Regions from separate parts of the Homo sapiens genome. Here regions 2 and 3 are each linked to region 1. Evidence: fine-mapped expression QTL. A gene starts in region 1. Each other region holds a variant in brackets. All regions are shown on one strand. Distances are from middle to middle.

Evidence for each region. PIP is the estimated chance that this variant, and not a neighbour inherited with it, causes the effect.
Region 2: its variant is fine-mapped to the expression of ZMIZ1 in blood mononuclear cells (TOPMed, PIP above 0.99).
Region 3: its variant is fine-mapped to the expression of ZMIZ1 in whole blood (TOPMed, PIP above 0.99).

What each region holds. Positions count from the first base shown.
Region 1 is chr10:79,066,133-79,071,349 of GRCh38, forward strand. ZMIZ1 (zinc finger MIZ-type containing 1) reads left to right here and starts at 2,834. Exons shown (of 25, transcript NM_020338.4): 1 at 2,834-3,138. It overlaps ZMIZ1-AS1 (ZMIZ1 antisense RNA 1), which reads right to left and starts at 1,316. Exons shown (of 10, transcript NR_024431.2): 1 at 1,256-1,316; 2 at 316-454. RefSeq lists silencers at 875-1,084, 1,125-1,174, 1,275-1,484, 2,285-2,354, 2,615-3,594, enhancers at 1,748-2,593, 3,795-3,844 and a cis regulatory region at 2,467-3,152.
Region 2 is chr10:79,282,949-79,288,165 of GRCh38, forward strand. The region is part of intron 8 of ZMIZ1 (zinc finger MIZ-type containing 1); the gene reads left to right. Among named protein-coding and RNA genes, the nearest start is that of PPIF, 62 kb to the right of the region's middle. RefSeq lists enhancers at 2,050-2,169, 2,620-2,809, 3,023-3,673, 3,220-3,839, 3,674-4,324 and cis regulatory regions at 2,284-2,784, 3,272-3,772, 3,370-3,870, 3,386-3,886, 3,395-3,895. The variant T/C (reference allele first, on the strand shown) is at 2,575.
Region 3 is chr10:79,296,455-79,301,671 of GRCh38, forward strand. ZMIZ1 (zinc finger MIZ-type containing 1) reads left to right here. Exons shown (of 25, transcript NM_020338.4): 13 at 17-199; 14 at 1,159-1,236; 15 at 1,952-2,126; 16 at 2,596-2,737; 17 at 4,278-4,488. Among named protein-coding and RNA genes, the nearest start is that of PPIF, 48 kb to the right of the region's middle. The variant G/T (reference allele first, on the strand shown) is at 2,400.

The sequences.
Region 1 (5,217 bases):
CCTGGAAGTGGGCAGGCCCTGGATACTTATTGAGGAATCTGGACAGAAAGGTTGAGAGGGCTGGGCGTCCAGACCTAGCTGGTCATTAAGGCAACAAGAACTGGTCTAATTGTGGGCTGGGCTGGATTATCACATCCCAAATCCTTAAATACCCAGAAACTCTCTTTTGGGATTTTGGACCTGGGTATGGGGTGGCTGCTGCCACTGCTGCAATGCTGTGGATTGCTGGGAGTGGGACAGCTGTGGCTGCAGCCACCGTTCTGCAAGCTTAATTCCTACCTTCGGAGGTTTCTCAGGTGGCCCTGGTGTACCTACCTGTGAACTTAGGCCACCCACAGGCTGAGGAGGGGCTCAATCACACAGCAATGTGCTGGGACCATGACTCCCTGGTGTCCCTAGAGGTCTGGAAGTGCTTTCATACCACCCACCCTCTCCAGGGATGCTCAGCTGCCACCTACAGGGAGGGCGGGGGTGGAAGAGCAGCAGTCATCACAGTCCATGTCCATGTGACAGGTAGGAAGACTGAGGCCCCAAAGGAGTGCCTTTTCTTGCACCCAATGGCATAGGGAGGCAGAATTTCCCCTGGGGAAAATAAAATAACGCCCCCACTCCGCCGCCTGCGCCCCCACACACCCCGTCCCCCACGCCCGGGTGGACCTAAGCAGCAGTTTTCTGAGCTTTCAGGAATTCCAGACTGAGTTCACTGGCTGTGAGACTAGCGGAGCCTTGAGAATGAATTCAAAGCTGGCAAATTCATTTTGCCTCCTCTCCCTCGGTGGTGGAAGGAGTGATCTCTCCGGCTCTGAAGGAGTTCAAGCCGAGGTCAGCGAAGCCCTCAGAAGGATGTTCTAAAATGGGGGTGGGGGGTAGTGCTCCGGCCTGCTTCCCCGGTTGGCCCAAGGTCCGCGCTGATCACCGCCCAAGAGGCCCAGGAGACCCGCAAATCTGTGCTGCACGTCCGCACTCCCATGCGGGCCTCGTCAATCAGGAGGCGGCTCCGGCCAGGCCTGGACATCTTCGGCCCGCCCCAGGCCCCGGGGGAGACCCCCGCCTGGGCCGCCTCCGGGTGCCCGCCCCCCGGCGGTGTCATTGTTCTCTGACGTCACGCCTCAGCCCCGCCCCTCTCCCCCCACCCTTCCTCCCCCACCTCCGGCTCCCCGCGCCCCCGACCCTGCAGCCTCCGAAGCCCCGGCCGTGCAAGGCTCCCCCCGCAGCCCGGCCGGGGCTGCGCCCCCTTGCGCTCTCCCCAACTTGCCTTTGTTATTCCAGCTCCCTTCCTCGCCTCGCCTCCGACACGGTGGCAGCCTGCAAAACGTGGAGCGCGGAGTCACTGCCACACCTGGAATCCGAAGCGGGCTCCGCCGGCTCCCGGCCGAAGCCGCCCCCGCCTGCCGGGGAGGGGAGCGCGTGCGTGGGCGGCGCGTGTGTGTCCAAAGAGGGCTGCGCGGGCGCCAATTATGATTGGGACTGGGGGTGCCGAAAATCAGGGGTGGGGGGCCTCGAGGAAGGGGTATGGAAGAGGAAGTGGGAGAGGAGGGCGTGTGTTTGTGTGTGTACGTTAACGTGAGGATTTAGTGCCCAGGGGAACGTTTCGTGTTTTGTTTTTTGATTGTATGTGGGGTTGTGTACAGCGATGTGTGTGTGTAACTGCGTGTCTCTGAGCGTGCCTGCTGTGGCCGTGTAAGCGGGCATCTTTGTGAGGGAAAGTAAGCGAGTGTGTGGGGGCGCGTTTGTGGTTTGGGGGGGAGCGTGTTTGCAATGCTGAGGGAGCGAACGTGTGTGCCGTTCTTGTAGGAGTTTCCGTGAGAGTGGCAGTGGACGTGAGCCAAAGTGGGCGCGTAGTTGGATGCTCTCGGGGGGGGGGGGTGGGTCGGCTAGGGGAACTCCCGCGAGTGGGTGCACCCAACTGCGCCTCGTGAGTACCTTAGCTCTCCGCTATCTCTGGCAGTGCCCAGTCCGGGGCAGAGGGCCAGGCCCCAGCCTAGCAGCTCCCACGCAGCCCGCGCGCACAGCGCCCCGGGCGCTCCGCGCCGGGCCTAGGGGAATCCACGCGTCTCTGGACTGTGCTAGGTGCCGCGGATCAACTGTGGCCACCACACCCCCGCTCCCCCACAGCTGTCGGGGGGCCGCGCTCTAGTCTCCCTCAAAGTCACCCTTGGTGGTGGTGGTCCTCTTCCCACCCCAACCACCAGTCCCCGGGCTGTAGGAACAATTCCAAAGTCAACCCCAGGGGAAGGCTTTGGAGGTCCAGTTACCAACTCGCTTACCCCAATTCGGGTACCTGACAGCGCCCGGGGCCACGAGTGCACTCCAGGCGGGGGCGTGCCAGCGCGGGGCAGGGGCTCTCGGGTGAGCAGTGTGATTTTGGCTTCCTCCCCAAGGTGGTCCCTACCTAGGCTCAGCATTTGTTCCCCTCTCCAAACTTACTGGGGCTGGGGCCTGCAGGGGGGCTGGGGGCTGCAGGGGGCGTCAGGGAGTAGCGGAGGGAGTAGGGCAAGGAGAGAGGTGAGTGGACTGGTGGCGTAGCGGGGAACCAGGAGCCAGGAGAAGAAAAGCTGGGAGAGCGCCGAGACCGAGGAGCGAGGAAGAGAGGAAGAGAAAGGAAAGGAAAGGCGAGGGAGAGAACGAGGAGAGGCGAAAAGGAAAGGGGAAAGAGAGCGCAGAGCGCGAGCCAAGCCGAGCGCCGGCAGCGGCGGCGGCGCGGCGCGGCGCTCCACTCCGGCCTGACTCCGCACCGGCTTTTGCGGGCGGCCGGCGGCGCGGGGCCCTTTGGAAATAGAATAGCCAATGTAATCTGACACTTCAACTTGCTCGGCTCCGGGCGAGTTGATTCACTTACTCACCCCCTAACGCCGAGTTCCTTTTCACTGTCTGTGGACATTAAAAAAGCGAGCGGCGGCGGCGGGCGCCGGGGAGAGCGGGCGGCCGGGCGGCAGGCGGGCGAGCAGCGATCGGGCGGCCGAGCGAGCGAGCAACGCCGGCGCAGCGCGGTGACCCCAGCCCCAGCCGGCGCGGAGCAGGAGCCGGAGCCGAGCGGATCTCGGCGCCCTCGCTGCGCTCCTCCCGGCCCGAGCCTGCCCTACCCGGCGGTGGCGGCGGCGCGTCCTCCAGCGGCGGCAGCGGCGCTCGCAGCGCCCGGTAAGTTTGGGGCCAGAGCCAGGCGCCCGCTGGCTCCGGGGCTACCTCCCGCTCCCCGGGGACTCTCGGGGTGCAAGCGTGGGGATTGGGTGCTGGGGTTTTTCCCTTAAAGTGTCCCCCGGAGCGGGGCGACCGGCCGGCGGCGCGGGCTCCGCTCCGCTCTCCTTGGCGGCCGGGGGCCGAGGCCCGGCGGCCGGCGAGCTCCCGGCTGCGCGGAGCCGGCTTGGGCTGCGCGTGGGGGCCGGGTTTGTCAGGGTGTGCGGGGCGTAAGTGTGGTCGTGCGCGCGCGGACCCGGTGCCCGCCTCCTGCCGGCGCGCCTCCAGCCCTCGCTCCCTACACCCGGGGGCCGGGCAGGACCGGGAATCGGAGGAGGGAGGGAAGGACCGCCTCGGTCTCCTTCGCCTCCTCTGGGGAGATGCGAAGTTGTGCGCCTGTGTGTGTACAGGAACCGCTGGGGAAAGCGCTGGATTTCAGGATGGCAAGGGGTGGTGGTGTTAACTTGTGCGTCTGAATTTCCAGGGAAAACATACACTTTTGTAAATGGGAGGTGGGGGCGCGGTTAAGTTGTTTGTGTGGGAATTGCCCGGGGAAAGCTGGCGCGCGGTACAAACGAGAAACGCGGAGGTGTGTGTGCAGGGTTTTCTCCCAGGGCTTCGCAAGCCAGAGGGGCGCTCAGGCCAGTGCCTGGACGGGGCTGCCCCGGCCAGGAGGGGAGCCCAGGGGGAAGATGTGCGTGTGTGTGCGCGCGCGCGTTGCAAATACGAAAGTAATTTCCCCGTGTTCTTTCTTCCTCTCCGTCTCCGGCGGCGGTGGCCCCGGGGGAGTGGGAGGCCAGCCGGGGCGGAGGTTGGGGGGCCGGGGCTGGAGCCGGGGTCGGGGGGGGGAGGCGGGTTCTGGAAGCTTGCTTCACATTCCTGGCGTCTGGGCTGGGGAAAAAACAGTGGGGAGCGCGGCCTCGGCGTCTAGGGCGCGGGCAGCGGGCGCGCGTCGCCCCCTCGCTGGGGACATCTGTCCAGGAAGCCGGCCGGGCGGGGATAGGGCGCGGTGCGGAGGGCAGGCTCCCCGCCCTGGAGCGGTGGGGGCGCGGGCGAGGGGCGGCCGCCTTCCCGGCCATTGTGCGCCAGCAGATTTTCACGGGAGACTGCCCCGGAGCCGCCGGAGAAGGCCGGGAGCCGGCCTCAGCCCCGGGTTTAAAAGACACTCCAGGAATGTAAACAACCCGGGCGGGAGGGCGGGCGGACGGGAGCGCGCCAGGGCAGCCGGTCCGGGCCCCCCACCCCTCCCCGGGGACAGCCGGTCGGCACTGCCGCCCAGCCCTACCCCTCTACCTGCAGCAAACTTTTTCCTTCTCTGCCTTCCCTTCCCACCTCGTCCCTCCAGCAGGTCACAGAGCGAGGGCCGCTCCCAGGTGGGCCAAGGGTGCTTGGTACCCTTGCCTGACCGGGGAGGCCTGACGGCCGGGTCCCTGCTTCGGTGCCCGGAGCCCCGGCTGCGCCTGCCCGGGAGCCGTCAGCTTCCTGGGTAGGCAGTGCCCGAGTAACTGGGGCTTTGAGCCTGCCCGCCTGCCTCCCTCCCTCCCTCCCTCCCGCTGCTCCTTCCCCCGCGCGCTCTCCCCCTTCTCCTCTCCCCTGACTGCTTTTCCAATGCCCTGACATGAGGGAGGAAGATTTAACTTGGCAGCCCAAACAAATGTTCTCTCAGAGGTCCTCCAAGAAGCTGGCGGCTGGGCTGGCGGGGTGAGGGCACGGCTCGGCCAGCCTTTCCCTCCTCTCTGCTCTGCCACGGACATTTGGAGCCCTCTGGGTGGACAGCCCAGGGCATGGGAGAGTAGGGCCCAGCCCCAAAGATTTAAAAGGGCAGTGGGCGGCCGCCTGTGGAAGCCCCTGGCTCCGCGCCGGGTGCAGAGCCGCTCCGAGCTGCCTCCTGGTGCCAAGGGTTTTCTGAAGGATTTTCTTGAGCAACAGTTTGTCTCCCTGCTGCAACCTGGGAACCGGGCCTGGTAGACCAGAGGGTTAACCAGTGCCGACTCCTCCTCCCTGGTGGGTGTGAGGACAGGCTGGTTACACAGGGCAGGGCAG
Region 2 (5,217 bases), 220 kb after region 1:
CTGCAGTGACCTGGACTTGAAGCCAGTGAAGTCTTTCAACCTCCTTCTTCCAGATTTTTAATGAGTGGTTTAAAAAGCCATTTGTGATTAGCACATTGTCCTTATGCAGATCAGTGTTGCAAAGGTAATTAAAGGCCTAATAAATCTTGTTTATGCTGTTAATTTGATTACAGTCAAAACTCGCTAGGGCTGGGGAAGCCTCCAAGATTGAGAGGTGCCTTCCTCCTTCTTATAGGTGCGGGATTTATGAACCCCAACAGAGAGGCTTCTGGGCGGGAGGGCCCCTGGCATCCCCTGAGTATAGCAGGTCGGGGAACAGGCCCTGGAGCCAGGCTGCTGGGCCTTGAGTTTCAGCTGGGCCATATTCTAGCTGGGTAACTGGCCAGTTACTTACCCTCCTTGTGCCTCGGTTTCCTCATCTGTAGAAGGGGAGTGACAACAGTGGCAGGAGTGGTGTGCTTGTCGCCAAGCCTGGCACACTGGGAGCCCATGGACCAGTCATTATTCCCCTGATCCTCAGCCAGGTGCCATCAAATTCTTAAGTGCTTATTCATGGCCAAACAAGAAAGAAGGGGGCAATCAAAACCAGCCACATCACACCATCTCCACAGCTGCCATTTTTAGCTCGGTTTTGCATAGCTTCACCAAAGCTCAGTTTATGTTAGGGCTTTGTTGCCCCAAGAACATTTTAAAAACAAAAAAAGAAGGAAAGGGGAGAATTGAAAGACCCATAAATCCCTGCACCATCAGTTCCAGATGGCCAAGATGCAAAGGATTTTTTCCTTTCCTCCTTCCTACTGAAAAAGTTTTAACACCCTCTAATATGCAGTTAGCTGCACAAGTTCCTAAGTTTCACCGCAGGGAGGGAAGGAAGTAGGCCCCAGTAATTGTGATGATGGAGAACACTGTTAATGGTTCCCCTAAATTAAACAGGGTGGGAGCTTCAGCTCCTCACTGGCTTGGCATTTCATTAGCAGTAACACTACAGCCTTGCACGGAGACGGGACCAGTATGGCTGGATCAGGGAAATTAATTAGAGTCTGACAATACCCTTAATGGAAATTGGTTATTTCTCCCAAATAAAGCAGCTATTACAAGTGCAAGGGAAGAAATAACTCAGCCCTCCCCCCGCGTTCCTTTCATGAATGTGTGTGTAGATGCTGCCATAGCGGGTGCACAGGAGCCAGGAATCATCACTGCCTTATCCCAGGCCTTGCTCATTTTCTCACATTCAGCAAAACCTCGATCATTGCCCGTGGAGCTGGCACAGACATGTAAACTGTCTACTGTGACTGCAGTGCAGAGAGCTCTCTATAAAATACGTGAAAAAAGTGCTGAGGGAACAGAGGAAAGTGTCCTTGGTTCTGCTTAGGAGGGTCCTTAAAGGGAGTATGCAGGCTGGGCTTTGAAGTATGGATAGAAGTTTGCTGGCTGGTGAAGGGAAGGCAGAAGAAAAATGAAGAAAGTCTCAGAGGCTTGAGAAGCACATTTTTTCTAGTTGACAGGTAGGAATGAAAACGGCTCCTCCCATTGGTAGCATATTTGAAAAATTCCTAGGCCACTTTCATTGTATCCTGAAGTAAACAGGGGTAGCTGTGTATGGCTGGTTGGAGGACTGGAGAGAAAGGTGTAAGTACAGTTGAGCAGGGTCTTTCTACCAGGTTCTGTGCTAAACTTTACTTTTTTCTCATGTTTCTTAGGAAAGTGTTAGTCCCACTTTACAGATGAGAAAGTTGAGGCTGACTGAAAGTAACATGTCCAAGGCCACAGAAAGCTTCAGTGGCAGAGCCAGGGTTTGACCCGGAAGACTGTAACTCCAGAGCCCACATAGGGAACCTCTCTCCTGCTGGGCCTCCCTCTGTCGGCTGAATATTAACCTCAAAAAGGGGTCCCTGAATCTTTGCCAACACGGCCAGTACAAGCTAAAGCAGACGATTTAGTGTATAAAGAAATTCTTTCCTGGAAGACTATTTGGGTTTTCTCTGCAGCTGGGCTTTGAGGCCCATCTTTACATTTCCCCTGTCCCTTCGTGCTAGGCGACTTCCCCAAGAACCCCCAGGAAGATGCAGCCCTTCTTGGAATTCTTGTGGCTTCTAGGTGGCCTCTGCAGTGTGCTCCCTTGCCTCGTGGCCATCTCTGGAGAGGGGAGCGTTGCCTTGCTGGATCCTAAGTTCCTAAGACAGTGGTGAGCCTGATACGGTCTGGTGACCCGGCAGCCTTGCCCTTGATTGGCTCTGCTACCTCTGTGAGCCCCAGCTTCTAAGATGGGCATCTGTTGGGCCCACTTAATGGGGCACTGAATGAGTTCTTAGGTGAAGGCCACTTCACAAAATTCCTTGCATCTAGAAGTCACTCAGTAAATCAGAACAACAGTAACAGCGGCAGCCAGCAGTTTCAGGGTGTCCAAGGTGTGCGGGACTCTGGGCCTCATACATGTTAGGCACTTACACTTAACCCTCACGGCAGCCTTCGAAGGGAGGGGCTGAATCAGCCCCATTTCATAGATGAGGTTGCTGAGGCATACAGAGAGTGAGCAGTGGTTTCATCGCTTCCCTCTGTGTCCTTCTCTCACTT[T/C]CTGGGCCCCAGTGGCCATGTGGCCACAGACACACTGTGTAGGTGGTCGGTCATCAGGCTTAACGAAATGGACATATTCATTTTCAGCATCACTCCAAGGGTGAGTGCAGAGAGGTGGTTTCTCCCTGGCACATTTTTTTGTTTAGCAAAGGTTTCCTGAGCCCTATTGGTGTGTGAAGACATCATGCTTGGCTCAGGGAGCCCAAGAAATCAGTGACAGCTCCTGAGGCAGAAGGGAGAAGGCAGAGGGTTCTCACTCTTGCCAGGAATGCGAAGAGCCAGTGGAGTTCAGTACCTTCTGCAAGGGCTTCCCGGAGGAGGTGGCCTTTGGAAGAGCCTGGAAAGGATGAATGGCATTTTCAAGGTGGGATGGAACTTGCCAGCCTGAGAAGAGGCACAGAGGCCCCTGTATTAGGGAGCAGTTGGCAAATGGAACCGTTGCTGCTGACATTGCAGATGGCTTCTGGCCTTGGTGCTTCTGTGGGTGGAGCAGGATTGTTGGGGCCGTTTTGGCTGGACAGGACTGTGGCTGGGAGCAGCTTATGGTGTGATACTGGGCAGGCCATGCTGGATTAGGGTTGTACAGAGTGGGACAGAATTATTAAAAAATGCCAAGCACCTGTGACCAGGTGAAGCAAGTCTGCAGGTTAAACTGTGCTCGTCGGAGAGAAGAAGGGCTCTCAGGCACCCTCCAGACCCTCCTCCCATCCCAGCCAGGCCATGCCTTTCTGGTAGCAGCCCAGGGGTCTGCTTGGTCCTTCATCCTTGGGAACAGGGACCAGGCATTCCCCCGGTGGTGGTATCTTGAGTCTAGGCAGTGGCGTCACATCAGCAGGGCTGCTGTGGGGGCCTGCGGGGGCGAGAGCCTTCTCTGCGACAGCAGGAGCCCGTCTCCCCCAGAATGAGATGAGTCACGGTCCTGTCGGTGCGGCTGCCACTTCTGCTTCTGCAGCAGGTGCGTGTGGAGGCAAGCTAGTCCTGAGACTGCCCCACACGCTGTGCCTGTCTCTTCCCCAGTGCACGGGCAGCATGCCAGCAGGGCCTCGCGTGTGTGCACGGATGTGTCCTCCATATGCCTGCGTGCATCTTTGCTCTGGGGCGGCAAACCTTCCAGCCAGGCAGTGGGATGGCCAGTTTGGGAACGTTGGTTAGCTTTGCTTCTCACCAAGTTTGGGGCAGAGGGGACAAAACAGGAAGGAGCTGGTTTCCGCCCACAAGGCTCACCCACGGAGCTGCAGGGCAGTTGGGAGCTTGTTCGTGGGCCTGTGTAGCGTCCTGGGCTGAGGTGATGAGGCAGCAGTTGCCCACTCCCTGGCCACAGGCAGGGCCCTGCCGGCCCCTGGGGCCTCCCATGGGGGTTCATTTCCTGAGCCTGGCCAGGCATGTTCTCAAAGGATAGGAACTTCCGTCTCAAGGCCATCAGCCTGGAGGGTTGGTGGGAACTTGTGGGGCAGAAGTTCTGGGGCGAGAAGCCACTCAGGCTTGGGTTTTGTTCAGATGTAGGGGACCCCCTCTGGTCATCCAGCACACCTAGGACATGGGCCTTGAGGACAGCAGGTGTCCAGGGGATCTCCTCTTTGTTTTGTAAAAGCGTGACCTGTAGAGCCTCCCTGTGAGACTCTGGTGTGCCAGTCTGGAACCAGGTGGTGTGCCGGGTCCCCAGTGACCTCCCTGGGAGACAGAGGCTGTTCCAGCCCAGCCTTCCTGAGGAGCAGGCTCATGGCTACTTTCCTGTGTTTCTCTGCACTGCCCACTCCCTCTGGGCTCCCAGTCTCCAATCCGCCACCTGGAGAGCAGAGTCTGTCGCTATCTGTCACCTTTGGCCCAAGCATCTGGATCTTCAACAAGCCACTACCCATCATTGTGCCTGGCCAACTGAGTGCCCTGAGTACAGCTCCTCTACTCCAAATGCGAGTCCTGCAGTTTCCCCAGAAATCACGAGCAGCGCTCAGTTGGGAAAGCCCTTTGACTGCATTCTCCTCTTTGAGCCACATCAGATTTAGGCTGCTGAACCTGTGTTCAAACCTATTTGACCAAGATCCACGATAAATACACATACGACACCTTGACCCAAGGTGCACATGTATTTGTGTATAAAACCAAGACAGAAGCTCAAGGACTAATCTTCATCTTTATTGTGTGCTCACACTCCATCACTTTCTAGTTGATGCTTTTTTCTCCCCTGCTGGTTGGATGTCATCACCTGCTCAGATTCTGTAACCCACAGTTGGAAAACACAGAGTAGAGTGGGGAGGTATCATCTGATGCCCATTTTACAGATGAGGAGATTGAGTGAGGAAACTTGCACCAGGGTCCTAAGCACAAAAGTCTCTGCCGTCACAGAGCTGTTCTAGAGGCAGACAGACAATAATCAAAAAAATATATAATTAGGACAGTGGTGGAGTGCTATGAAAAAAATTCCAGTGCCAGGGTGAGGGGGCAGGCAGTGTCGGGTAGGAGCTGCTTTTTTATACGAGGAGGGCGGGGGAGGCCCCTCCAGCGATCTCAGACAGGAAGAAAGCGAGGGGCTGGCCAGGCTGAGAAATCTAGGGCAGAGGGTATCCAGGCAGGGGAGGGGCAAGTATGAGCAGACAGTGGTGTGGTCCTGCCCTCCAGGCTGGTCGCCTCTGCAGGAGCCCGTCA
Region 3 (5,217 bases), 230 kb after region 1:
TTCTCTCCCACCACAGCCCAACTATGGAAACCAGCAATATGGACCAAACAGCCAGTTCCCCACCCAGCCAGGCCAGTACCCAGCCCCCAACCCCCCGAGGCCACTCACCTCCCCCAACTACCCAGGACAGAGGATGCCCAGCCAGCCGAGCTCCGGGCAGTACCCGCCCCCCACGGTCAACATGGGGCAGTATTACAAGGTGAGTCCCAGCCTCGCCACCACCCACGGGGCCCCTTCCCTCCTAACCACCTCACTCCCCTAACTCCACCGGGATCACTCTGACCCTGCGTGTGTTTGCCCCAAGGACAGCGAGGGGTGGGTGATTTCTGAACGTCCCCATGTGTTCAGGGCGAAGTTCGGTGGCCAGAATGTCAGAGTGGCTTTTCTCAGTTCCTATTCTCATTCGTCTCGGATGATGGTTTTTTTTTCTCCTTTTCTTATTCACGGCACTCACAAAATAATAAAGGAAATATATTTTATTAAAAAAACACACATCCCCTGTATATATTAACATTTCATTCTAAACTTTGTATGTGCAGGTGGGCACTAACATGTTATAAAATTGTTATTACAGCTGTAACTTTGAATCTGTACCTTTTACTTAACATGACATAATAAGGATGATACTTACTGCTACTAGAGCCCCTGGGGTTTTTACTTTTAATGGCTGCCTAATATTCTGCTGAGATCACCATATCATATTTTATTATTCCTTCTGTTAGGTATTTGGGTTGCTTCTGATTTTTCACTTTAGAAATAACACTATGATGAGTATCTTCAGGCATATAGCCTTTCCTTTCCTTAGGATTATTTTCTTGGGAGTAAAGAAGACACTTTATTATTTTACATTTATTTGCCAAAAATCATGCTAATTTATTATGGCCATCTACCAAACAGGTTTACCGTTTTTGCTCCAACTTCAGCATACTAGGTGTTGCTATTTTTGTAACTTCTGCTAAATTAATAGCTAGGGACAGAGAGAGGCAAAATGCCGTCCCTGAGGTGTAGCTGTCCCGCCCTGCTCACTCAATATACCCAGCAGTGGATGGGCCCCTGTAGCATCCCCGTGCTCCTGGTAGATTTTACTGTCCAGAGGGAGAGCGGGCTTCTGATGGCTTTTCTGCCCCCCACTCAGTGTTGTTTATCTTGTTTTAATAGCCAGAACAGTTTAATGGACAAAATAACACGTTCTCGGGAAGCAGCTACAGTAACTACAGCCAAGGGAATGTCAACAGGGTATGTTCCAATTTAATTTACAAATTCTAAGCCACAGGGAGTTGTTGCCTCTAAAGGTTCTCACTGTTCCTGCTCCAGCCTCTCTGGACATTCAAAGGGGCCCATGGGTGGGGGTGCACTCCCTGGTCCCCTGTCCTGGGGACAGAGATGCTCAGGACTGAGAATCCACGGCTCCAGGTGGGGTGAGCCCCAGGGTAAAGTGTCAGCCTGGCTAGTCTTGAAAACAAGGAGAGGGAGAGGGGTTCCTGGGGAACCTGGGCCCCAGATTCTGCAGGCCCCGACTCCACCTGGGGACCCTGATGGGGTAGGCATAGAGGGTGTGGCCTTGAGTCGTGATGTGGGAAGCCCACCTGCTCGGGTGACAGGAGGCCTGGGCTTCATTCCCGCTGTCCTGTCCTCCAAGGGTTGTGCTGAGCAAGTCCCCAACCCTGAGCCTCTGTGTCCCCATTTATCACAGGGATGGGTAAGGGTCTCCACAGGCACCTGACACAGGAGCTCAGTGGTGAGACCCAGATGAAGGGTGGGGAGGCCCTTCCCAGGGCTGTCTTCTGAGCAGGACAGAGATCTGCGAGAGAGAAGAGTTTCCCTGGAGGAGGCTCTCCTCCCGAGGGGCATGGCTCCAGGCCCCTGGGATGAGTGCGGTGTATGTCCATAGCCATGGCCCCTTCTGTCTCCGTAATCCCATAACTCGTGCGTGTCTTTTCTTTCCCTCCAGCCTCCCAGGCCGGTTCCTGTGGCAAATTACCCCCACTCACCTGTTCCAGGGAACCCCACACCCCCCATGACCCCTGGGAGCAGCATCCCTCCATACCTGTCCCCCAGCCAAGACGTCAAACCACCCTTCCCGCCTGACATCAAGCCAAATATGAGCGCTCTGCCACCACCCCCAGGTGAGGGCCCTCCCTCCCTCTCTTGGCAGCTCCACCTGGGCCCCCCAGTGGGCCGGGAGCAGGGGCTTCGCAGTCAGGCTGCCTGGGGAGTGGGCATCAGAAGGGGCAGAGAGTTGAGAGCAGGTGAGATACCCAGGGGCACACTCAAGGCGGGGTAGGCAGCTCACAGACAGCCTTTCTTACTGCTGCCTGGGCGCCTGGAGGCTGGGAGGAAAATCTATACGCAGCCATGGAAGGATGCAAGGAGGCGGGTGGAAGAAGAGGGGATGAGTC[G/T]CTGGGGCGGGGCCGTGTAGAATCGAAGAAGCCATGACTCACTGGTGTGCCCTTGGACTGGCTATGTCTCTGGCCCTGTTTACACACCCCTGCCTTCCTCTGAGCATGCAGCCCAGGGTGAGCAAGTCCCACCTACAGCCCCAGAACCCATGGCAGCTGAGGCTTGTGGCTCACCCACCTCCTCTCCTCGCCCCAGCCAACCACAATGACGAGCTGCGGCTCACATTCCCTGTGCGGGATGGCGTGGTGCTGGAGCCCTTCCGCCTGGAGCACAACCTGGCGGTCAGCAACCATGTGTTCCACCTGCGGCCCACGGTCCACCAGACGCTGATGTGGAGGTGCGTGTCAGGGCAGGGGCGCCAGCCCAGGCGGGATGAAGGAGGTCCCCTGGGATGGCTTCCTTGGGCCCGAGTGGGGCCCTGGGCAGGGGGTAGCAGCATCTTCTGACACCTTCACGTGTTCAGCATCATTGACTGGGCCCTGTCCTGCGGTTGTCATGGGAAGTCTGCAGGTGCACAGGTAGATGAGCAGTCAAGGTGTCGTGGCCCAAGGGCAGGGAGCAGCTGTCACTCACCCCAGAGGAAAAGGTGGCTGGCTCAGACCTAGGCTGGGAAGCTGTGTATCCCATCTGAGACCGTGAGCTGACAAGAGGGAACGCAGTCAAGAATTCGAGTGTGACTCATGTGGCCAGAGCCAGGAATGCAGAGATGAGGCTGGTGCAAGGGCCAGGCCGGGGTCAGGCAGGCCCCATCTATTGCAGGGGGCTGACCATTGGGCAGGGCTGCTGCTCAGACACTTAGGCACGTGCTGGAACACAAGGTCCGGAGGTTCCCTGCTGAGCCAGGCCCATGCTCAGCACCTTCCACGTGTGACCCACTTTGATCTTGGAAATGGGCAACACTTTCCCTTTTGACAGAGGAGGAAGCTGAGGCTAGAGAAGTGAATTGGCTTGTGTGAGTTCTCACAGCTAGCCAGGGGCGGAGCTGAGACTTGGGCCCAGGTCTCCAGGATGCCAGAACCAACCCTGGGGGTGTCCACCCTTCAGTCCTTCATCCTCAGTCAAGACTCACAGTCTCACTGTGCTTGTGACTCAGACCCCCTTGACTGCCCAGTGAGCATCTCCAGCGCAAGAGCTGGGTCTGTGCCTGGCACATGCACACACACCCCTGCTGTTTTCTTGACCATGCTGAGCAGGCTGGGTGAGGTGGCCACAGATAGCTGGTGTGGGCGTTCAGAACACAGGAGCTGCAACGCTCAGGCAGGAGGACAGAGGTCCCTGGCACGGGACAAACCACTGTGCTGCCTGCCTGCACCCTGCTCACCCACGCTCCTTAGCTGGGAGTGTCCTGGCCTGGGAGGCCTCCTCTTCCTGGCTTGCTTGTCACACATATATGGTCACTGCTGGTTCCTGACACTCCTCAGTGCTGCGTCCTTGGGGGGCCTCCTTGGGGAGTGCTCAGAACCAGAAATGGCCGTGGCCTGGGAGGACAGCTCCCAGCAGGTCTAGAGATGGGGTTGGCTGGCCTCACAGCAGGTCTTGTCAAATGAGTGCCTGTTCATTTGCCCCTCTGTCTCTGTCCTGGGGATCCAGGAGTTGACCCCTACAGGGAGGACATTCCAGGGAGATGGGAGCTAGAGCTGTGGGGTGTGATGGGAATGATTGGTGTGCGGGGGTCTTGGGGGCAGTTTGGGTGTAGAGGGAGTATCCAGAATGGGAGAGGAGAACTCAGGCTGGGGGAATCATTGGGGTCAGGGATGGGGTCCTGAGGATCTCGGAGGTTGTGGTGTGTTTAGAGGTGTGTGACCTGGCTCGGGGTCACGGAGGCCATGGACAGCCCCCTGGCAGAGCTGCCCTGAGCACCCTCGTTCCCCACCTAGGTCTGACCTGGAGCTGCAGTTCAAGTGCTACCACCACGAGGACCGGCAGATGAACACCAACTGGCCCGCCTCGGTGCAGGTCAGCGTGAACGCCACGCCCCTCACCATTGAGCGCGGCGACAACAAGACCTCCCACAAGCCCCTGCACCTGAAGCACGTGTGCCAGCCGGGCCGCAACACCATCCAGATCACCGTCACGGCCTGCTGCTGCGTGAGTGTGGTGGGCCAGGGGCAGCGTTGGCACAGGCAGGCCCTGTTTCACGGCATGAGAGTGCGGAATACCCTGCCCCACTCTGGTCCTCAGCCTTGTCCCTGCGTCACCACCCCCGTGCCCACAGCCGCCAAAGATACAGCGTCCCCTTACCTGTGCCCAGGGCCTGTGCAATAACCTTCAAACCGTTGGGCCTTCAAAGCCACTGTGCCCTGGCTTCAGACGTGGCCTCTTCCCCTGGACACTCAGCCTCCGTCTGTTCTCCACACATGCTTCCGATTCACCCCTCCTGGCCCCTCCTCCCTACCCTTCATTCATTGGTGCAGTTCTGTGTTCCTCAAAGCCATGTCCTGCTTGCCTCATTCACCAGCAGTTGTCATTGTCAGCACCTTTTCCCCCAGACCCAACGCCCCCAAACCTGGAGTTAACGCGTTCCCTTCTTTCCCAACCCCCTTGTCTTAGAGTCACGTATGGGGGTCCTTCCAACCCGTGACTTGTTACCTAGGACCAGCTCTCAGCCACCCTCATGTCCCCTGAAGATCAGGGCCCAACACACAGGGCTTGCTCAGGCCCCAGTGGAAGTAAATTGCCTGCCCCACTCCACTGGCCTCTCTGTGGAGGCATGGAGAAGGAAACACTCTGATCCACCCTTGTGAGCTTAGGGGCACGGAGGCTACACAGAGATAGGGGTCACAGACCTGGGCAGCACATCCCATTCTGGCTGGGGAA